Linked DNA regions of Homo sapiens. The protein of the gene in region 1 interacts with the protein of each later gene in a pairwise test. Each region holds a gene or a part of one and is shown in the gene's direction. Other genes may lie near its edges.

Region 1 (4,324 bases):
AGCTGCTCTCAGACCTCGCTGGAGAGGGCTACCTGGGGCAGTCTGAGTCTCTCTGGGCAGACTGAGGTCCTTTGCTACCCAAACGGGGAGAATTAGAGATACTGTTGGCTCCTGGGCACTGGAAGGGAGGAACGCAGGCCTCTCAGCACAGGGCTGGGCCAACAAGTTGGGGGTCCCGGCACAGGGGACAACGGAGAAGTGCCAACATTGGGACCCAATTATGTGATACTGGGGCCCAGAGATAGTACAGGTGCCTCATACCACGTGGCCCTGGGTGGACAGCAGGAATCTATTGCGAGTGGCGGGAGGCCGGGGCTGCCTGTCCTGCGCCCTGAAGCTGGCCAGCGGTTGTGGAAACTGGGGGATATTGAGGGAACCGTAGGCCCAGGTCCTCAGCCTCATAGTGTGGAACCTGGCGATCCCAGGGCCTGGGCTGGCCCCCGGCGTCACGGGACCGGGAAGGCGCTGTGGTGCTGCGGGGAATTGCGGAGAAGAAGGCGGGCTCCAGTGGAGGTGGCTCATCCCCGCACGGTCACTGCCCTCGCCCGCTGTTGGGGTCCGCGGCTGGGAGACTGAAGGCCTCAAGTCGGGCTGGGTAGGGGCACGTGGGCAGGGAAAGGGGTGGTAGATTACCAGTCTTCAGGGGCGGGGCTGGAGATGCAACCCTAGGGAAGGAGTCTACCAGGCTGGGCTCTTGAGGGGCAATGGAGGGCTCCGGGGGCCAGGCCAGGCCAGGATCATGGAGTTCAAAGGACTGGAGTGAGGTTTGGGGTCCATGAGAGTGGAGCTCAGAGGATGGGACGGTGGGTCCAGGATTTGGGACCTGGGGCTGGAAAGTCCGAGGCTAGTGGAGACCAGGCCTGGTATCCCAGACGAAAGGGCCCTATAGGAAACGGGGTCTCGTGGGCGGGATCTGGAGCCAGAGAATTGTGAGAGGCGGAGCTAGGATGGAGAAGGCGAGAGGAAAGGGGTAGCCGCCGGCGCGGAGACCTCAATGCGGGGCGTGGTGCGGAGGGGGAACTGGAGCGAGGGGCACTGGAGCGAGGGGGTGGGGCTACGAGGAGGTGGACTTGAGGGGCTGGGTCTGGGGCCGGAGAATCGTGGGGAGCTGCGCCTATACACCCGGGACGGTGGGGTTGCGTCGGGGAAGTGGGAGTCTTGGGGGTTCGCTGGGCAGCCTGGAGAACAGGCGGTCGTGGTGCGGGCGGGGCCGAAAAGACCGAGGACAGTGGGGACCCGGCCTGAGGAGGGGTCGGGAAGGAGGGGTGGGGGCGCGCGGACGCAGATCCCGGGCCGCGGCGGGGCGGTGGCAGGCTCCAGAGTGGCACGGGCCCAGGTGAGCGAGGTCTCCGCCCGCCGCCCCTCCCGCCGCCCCGGTGCCAGCTGCCCCGCTGGCCCCTCCCTGTACCCGGCGCTTGCTCCGCGGGCCGGGCCGACGGCGGCGGGCGGCGTCTCGCGCCCAGGCCAGGTCGGCTCTGGCTCCATCTTGGGCCGCGGCACCTGGCACCTGTGGCGGCCGCAGGAGCAGCGCTTCCCCCGCCTGCGCGGCCCCGGCGGGCGAGAGGGTGAGAGGCTGGCTCCGCGCGCTCCCGTTGGGGCGGGGGGCGTGGTGGGCGGCACCTCCCCCTTGCTGAGCCTCAGAACCCACTCCTTCCCGCTGCCTGCGCTCAGACCCCCGGCATCCTGGCCCCTGCCCAGCGCCCAGAGCCCCCGGTGGCCGCATCGCACTCCCCGCGCTCCGCCTCTCATTGTCCTGTCCTGTCCCCTCTTCTACGTCTCCTCTGCCCATCCTCCCATTTTCACAAGTCTGTCCGGGACCCTGTCTCCTTCGGCCTCCACCCCTGCTGCCATCGCTCCTCCCTCTCCCCTTCTTCCTTTTCCCCTCCCTCAGCCTACTGCGCCGCCTACCCCGCCCCCAGCCTTGCTGCCCTTTGGCTTCTCCTGTCCCGCATCATTACCCCGGCCCACAGCCCCATTTGCCTGCAGTCGCTGCCTTTGCTCCTGAGAAGGTCTGTAGCCTCGTTTCGGGCCCGTATTGAGCCCCCTTCTCCCTAAGTCCGGGTGGGCTTTGTGCAGGAGGGGCGGGAGGGGAGCTATTCTGGGCGAGGCTGCGTGGTGCGGTGCTTTCAGGCCTTTGGCCCCGCAGCAGGGGCGGCCTGTGCTTGGCGTGCAGAGTGCAGCTGGGTAGACGCTGTTACTGCATACGGGCCTGTGTGTCCCAGGCTGGGGCATGAGTGCTTGTGAGCGTGCAGATAGGGACACACCGGCCGCCTAGGCTGCTTCTAGGCCGGGGCACCCTCTCCACCTAGGTGCCCCCCAGGGATTGTGGGCAAATCCTCCCCAGGGGAGGAAGCTCAGGGGCTGTTGGGCGCCTAGGCCTCTTCCTGGTGAGCAGAGCCTCATCCATGGGGCCACTGACCCCACAGTTACCCCAGAACCCTTTCCTGGCACAGCTTGTGACCCGGGGCATGTAGCCCTTAAGGCACGTTCATTGTGAAGGGCAGGTTTTGTCTCCTCCAAACCCTCCCTTTAGGAATGCTGCCTGCTGCTTTGCCCAGAGTTGGCCCTGAGTGTTCCTATCAGGCCCCGTTCACTCTGGGGTGGATTAAACCACCTCCTGGAGGGTGCTGTATCCCCACTGTGCAATGGGGGTTTGTGCTGTGTGCATTCCTGCCTGGTCCTTGAGAGGTAAGGTCCATATTTTAACATAGAACCAGTTTTCCTGCCTGATCATATAGGTTTGCTTTTCCTGTTTTGGTTTTGCCGGACACATAAGTCATCATCCAAATGCTTGCCACTTAACTAGAGGGGACTTGGGCCAGGCGCTGTGGCTCATGCCTGTAATCCCAGCACTTTGGGAGGCCGAGGCAGGTGGATCACCTAAGGTCAGGAGTTCGAGACCAGCCTGGCCAACATGGCGAAAACCCCATCTCTACTAAAAATACAAAAATTAGCTGGGCGCCGAGGTGCACGCCTGTAATCCCAGCTGCCGGGAGACTAAGACAAGAGAATCACGTGAACCCAGGAGGCAGAGGTTGCAGTGAGCCGAGACTGAGCCATTGTACTCGAGCCTGGGAGACAGAGCGAGACTCTGTCTCACAAACAAACGAACGAACAAAACCAAGAGGGGACTTAGATGGATGCCACAGTGTTGTCTGAGATGGAGCCCACTTGTGGTGGTCTTGGTAGTCCCCTGGGCATATCCCAAAGGCCTGGGCTCCTCTGCTGTGGCAGCATGGCGGGAGCTGGACTCTGTACGTTGACTCAAAGGTCTCTATGTTTGGGCTAGTCTGGAAGTGTCTGAGAACTGGGGGCTTTTACTCAAAATGACATTGGTTGATTGCTACATAGGTGGTTGATCTTCCAGTTGCTGACAGGTGGAACCTGAGGCAGCAGGACAGCCTGGCATTGGCCACGGGACATCGGCCACAACCATAGCAACTTCGGCATCAAATGGGGCAGGAGAGAGAACATTAAGGTATCGTTCAAAGAATACTAGAGGTCTTGGATACTTCTGTATGCCTGTTCTTTATCTTGTCCTAAAAGATCTTCCGAGGGTCCCTTTAGGGCAAAACCAGAACCTTCTGTGTTGTTATAAAGGCAGGGTGGGTGTGCCATTCTGGGCATTTAAAGTGCAGACTCTAGACTTGTATGCATGCGTAGCCTCCTAGGTTAACATTTAAAATAGGCTCTGGGAAACCTAGTTTGGTGATAGGGAGACTGGGGACACTGATGGTGACCTGGTCCTAGGATGGGATGAAGGTAGCGAGGATGGGAAGCTAGAGGAGGCTAACCTTTGGGGTGTCTTGATGGCTTCTGAAAAGGGCCTCTCTGGCCCCCAGTACTAATACTTGTTATACCATGAACTTAAGCTGCTCTTGATGGGAGGGGAAAGAGAAGATTATTGTTAACAAACACTATTGCAGACAGTGCACATGCTGTCACATTTGGTCTTCACAACAACCCTGCAGGGTGGGGATTTATTTCTGTTTTGCAGATTGAAGAAACTGAGGCTCAAAGAAGTTAGGGGTCCACCTGTGAGTACATGCACAGGAAGGGGAAGAGCCCCCATTGGAAGCAGAGCCCTGCCCCTTCCTCCTCACCCCTGGCTCCCTGGGAGGCCCCTCCTCTGGCCCAGTCCACAGCACTGTGACAGGCAGTGTGGAAGCCTCTTTCCCCCAGTACTCCCCTCAGAGCCCTTCCTTCCTTCTGAGCTGGGAAGGCCAGGTTGTAGTTAGCCAGGCCAATCCATTGGGGTTCTGAATTAGCCACTTTCAGCTGTGTGTTCTTTGACATTTCTGAGCTGCTCCAGGCCTCAGTTTTG
Region 2 (3,809 bases), on another chromosome or scaffold:
CTCTTTTGATACTATCCCATAAACCCTATAAAGTTTCTTTATTCCTTTCCACTCTTTTTCCTTTCTTCTCCTCTGTATATTTTCATATAACCTGTCTTCAAGTTTACAGATTCTTTTTCTGATTGATCAATCCTGCTCTTGATGCTCTCTATTACATTTTTACATTCATTGTATTTTTCAGCTCCAAAATTGGTCTGATTTTATTATTTCAATTTATCTGGTAAATTTCTCATCTGACCATTTATTATTTTCCTAATTTTGTTGACTTGTTTCTCTGTATTTTCTGAAGTTCTTTGAGCTTCTTTAAAACAGCTGTTTTGAATTCCTTGGCAGATAGTTGATATATCTGTGTCTTTAGGGTCTATGACTGGCATCTTATTTTGTCTGTTTAGTGATGTCATGATTCCCCGATTGTTCTTGTGGTCATGTGTCAGTGTGTGTGCATTCAAGAAGCAGTTACTTATTCCAGCCCTCACAATCTGGCTTTGTCTGGGAACATCCTCTAACAGTAAGCCTGTCCAGAGATTCTAGGCAGGTCATTTGGTGTGGTCTCCGAGCCTGTGACCACTGCAGCCCTTCCAGCTCTAGGGAGTGCTATGTACTCCCTACTGTGACCAGCACAGTGCCACGCTGAAATCCCGTAGTCACTGAAGCTGACTTAGCACTGGGATGGAATCCTGTGGCTGCTGAGGCTGGTGCAGCACTTGGGTGCACCCAAAGCCCACAGCTGCTGAGGCTACTGCAGCACTGGGGTACATCTGAAGCTTGCAGCCACTGAGGGGGCCTGCCTGTTGCTGTGGGTTATTTGGATCCCAAGACCACTGTAGTTGGCTGATGGTGATGTGGGCTGGAACTCAAGTTTGTCTCACAGGGGCTATGGTTTCCCATCTGCTGCCGGGATGGGTCTAGAGTCTCAGTCTGCAGTTACTGGCCTGAAGTCATGGGTCATGGGGGGGTCTACCCAGTGCTGAGTTTTACTGTGACAGGCCTGGTATTGGGGTCCAAGGCAAAGTCTTACCTTTACTTTCCTCTCTTCCTCCCAAGCAGACAATATCTTTTTCCGGGCTGTGCTGCCTGGTCTTGGGGGAAGGGTGACATGGGTAATGTAAAACTGTTCTTCCTACCTACTTAAATGTGTCTTTTCTTATTATTATGCTATAACCAGGTGCTATAATCTCTCACCTGGTTTCCTTAGCTCTCGTGAAGGTATTTTATACATAGATAGTTGTTCAAATTCATATTTCTCTGTGGGAAAATTGCTGGAGAGTCCTATTCCACCATCTTGCTCTACTTTCCTCTGTGAGAATGTTTTGGATGAGATTGATACTTGAATTGGCAGAGTGAGTAAAGCAGATTGCCCTCAGTGTGGTTGGCCCTCATTCAATCAGATGAGGGCCCAAATAGAACAAAACTTGACCCACTGATGAATAAGAGGGAACTCCTCCTCCCTAAGTTCCTTGAGCTGGGATATTCATCTTTTCTTGCCTTTGGACTTGAACTGAAATATCAGCTCTTCTTAGGTGTAGAGCCTAGTGACTTTCAGACTGAAAAGATACTATCAGCTCTCCTTGGTCTCCAGCTTGTTTACTATAGGTCTTAGCCTCCATAATTTTGTAAATAAATAAATAGGCTGGGCACGGTGGCTCATGCCTGTAATCCCAGCACTTTGGGAGGCTGAGGCGGGTTGATCATGAGGTCAGGAGTTCGAGGCCAGCCTGGCCAAGACAGTGAAACCCTGTCTTTACTAAAAATACAAAAATTAGCTGGGTGTGGTGGTGGGCGCCTGCAATTCCAGCTCTCTCTCTCTCTATATATATATACATACACACACACACACACACACACACACACACACACATATATATATATATATTTTTTTTTTTTTTGAGTCTCACTCTTATAGCCCAGGCCAGAGTGCAGTGGCGTGATCTCGGCTCACTGCAACTTCCGCCTCCTGGGTTCAAGCGATTCTGCCTTAGCCTCCCGAGTATCTGGGATTGCAGGTACCCACCACTGTGCCCAGCTAATTTTTGTATTTTTAGTAGAGACGGGGTTTCACCATATTGGCCGGGCTGGTGTTGAACTCCTGACCTCAGGCGATCTACCCACCGCAGCCTCCCAAAGTGCTAGGATTACAGGCGTGAGCCACCACACCCAGCCTAAATATATATTTGTATATATTTAATTAAATATATGCATAAATATATATGTACATAGCTTACATCTATCTATCTATCTATCTATCTATCTATCTATCTATCTATCTACCTATTTTATCTGTCTATAATTAGTCTTGTTTCTCTGAAGAACCCTAATACAGATTTTGGTACTAGGAATGGGGTGCTAATGTAACAGAAAAATACCTAAACAAATGGAATTAGCTTTGGAACTGATTGATGGGTACAGGCTGGAAGATTTTTGAGGTGCCTGCTAGAAAAAGCCAACATTGTTGTGAGGGAAGTGTTGGTAGAAATATGGATATTAAAAGAAATTTTGGTGAGGGGTCAGAAAGTAAAGAGGAGAGCTAGAAACAAAGCTTCCATTTTCTTAGAGAATACATAAATACATGAACAGAATATTCATTCAAATGTGGATGTTAAGGGCCATTTTGGTGAGATCTCAGATACAAATAAAGAACAGACAGTTGGAAACTGGAAGGTGATCTTTATTATAAAGTAGCAAAGAATATGGCTGCATTGTGTCCTAGTGTTGTGCAAGGTAGAACTTGCAAGTGATGAAATTGGATACATAGCAGAGGAGATATCTAAGTAAAGTATCAAAGGTACCCCTTGGGTCCTCCTTGCTGCTTATAGTAAAATGCAAGAGGAGAGAGGTGAATTGAAGAAGGAATGGTTAGGAAAAAGGAGCCAGAACATGGAGATTGGGTACAACTCATGGACTTAATCAGCCATCTCATCAGAAGCCAAGAATAGAGATGGGATTTTACCAGCAGAAACACTGCTGGCTGAGACTAAGGAAACAGAAAAAATGAGACAGGATGAAGGAAAGCTATCAGACTTAGATTTTACAGGATGGGACCATAGAGCTATTTGGCTCTGAAAATACTTTATCCTTCAAGAAAAGGGAAGACTGACTCCAACAGCAATTCAGAAATCCTCAGGGCTGCCAGTCCCACTACAGGCCCAGGGAGTAGGTCTGAATCCTTCTGTTTTTCAAAGAGTGGGTGTGCCCTTCCAGTTTTGGTGGGTCAGGAACCCTTGCCTACTATATCAGGGTCAGGGTCAGGTTTGCCCTAGCAGAGAGCTTGTGGACTGGCCTTACTCCTTAAGCTGAAGGGGCAAGGCTACCCTGTAGAGCTGTGAGAATGATACTACCACCCGAGAGGGCCTGGGGGGCAGAGAGTTGAACCCAAGAGGGTTATTCTCTAGCTTTAAGATCCAAAGGAATTTTCCTTGCTAGATTTTGGACTTGTTACAAAAGCCATCACCTCTTCCTTCTTTGCTATTTCTCCCTTTTGGAGTGGGACTGTCTATCCTATGCCTTGTCCCATCATATTTTAGAAGCACATGACTTGTCTGGTTTCACAGGTTCACACCTGCAGAGAATTTTGCCTCAGGATGAATCACACTTCAGTTCTCTCCCATACCTGATTTAGATGATATTTAATGAGACATTGGACCTTAAGCTTTAGAGGTGATGTTGTAATGAGTTAAGACTTTTAGCACATTAGGGTGGGATGAATGATGAATGTATTTTGTATGTAAGAAGGGCATGAATTTTGGAGGCCAGATGCCCCACTCTTAGTACCAAAATCTGTAGTACTCTACAAGTGTTGCTGTAACAAAATA

What was found.
Region 2: the proteins of GPRIN2 (region 1) and LNP1 interact in a two-hybrid assay, tested with the Homo sapiens proteins (one large-scale study listed by BioGRID).

The regions. Positions count from the first base shown.
Region 1 is NC_000010.11:46,553,739-46,558,062, reverse strand, and holds the start of GPRIN2 (G protein-regulated inducer of neurite outgrowth 2), read left to right. Parts: upstream 1-1,404; 5' UTR 1,405-1,565; intron 1,566-1,646; exon of another isoform or gene 1,647-2,009; intron 2,010-2,533; exon of another isoform or gene 2,534-2,688; intron 2,689-3,351; exon of another isoform or gene 3,352-3,367; 5' UTR 3,368-3,478; intron 3,479-3,997; exon of another isoform or gene 3,998-4,324.
Region 2 is NC_000003.12:100,407,735-100,411,543, forward strand, and holds part of LNP1 (leukemia NUP98 fusion partner 1), read left to right. Parts: intron 1-3,809.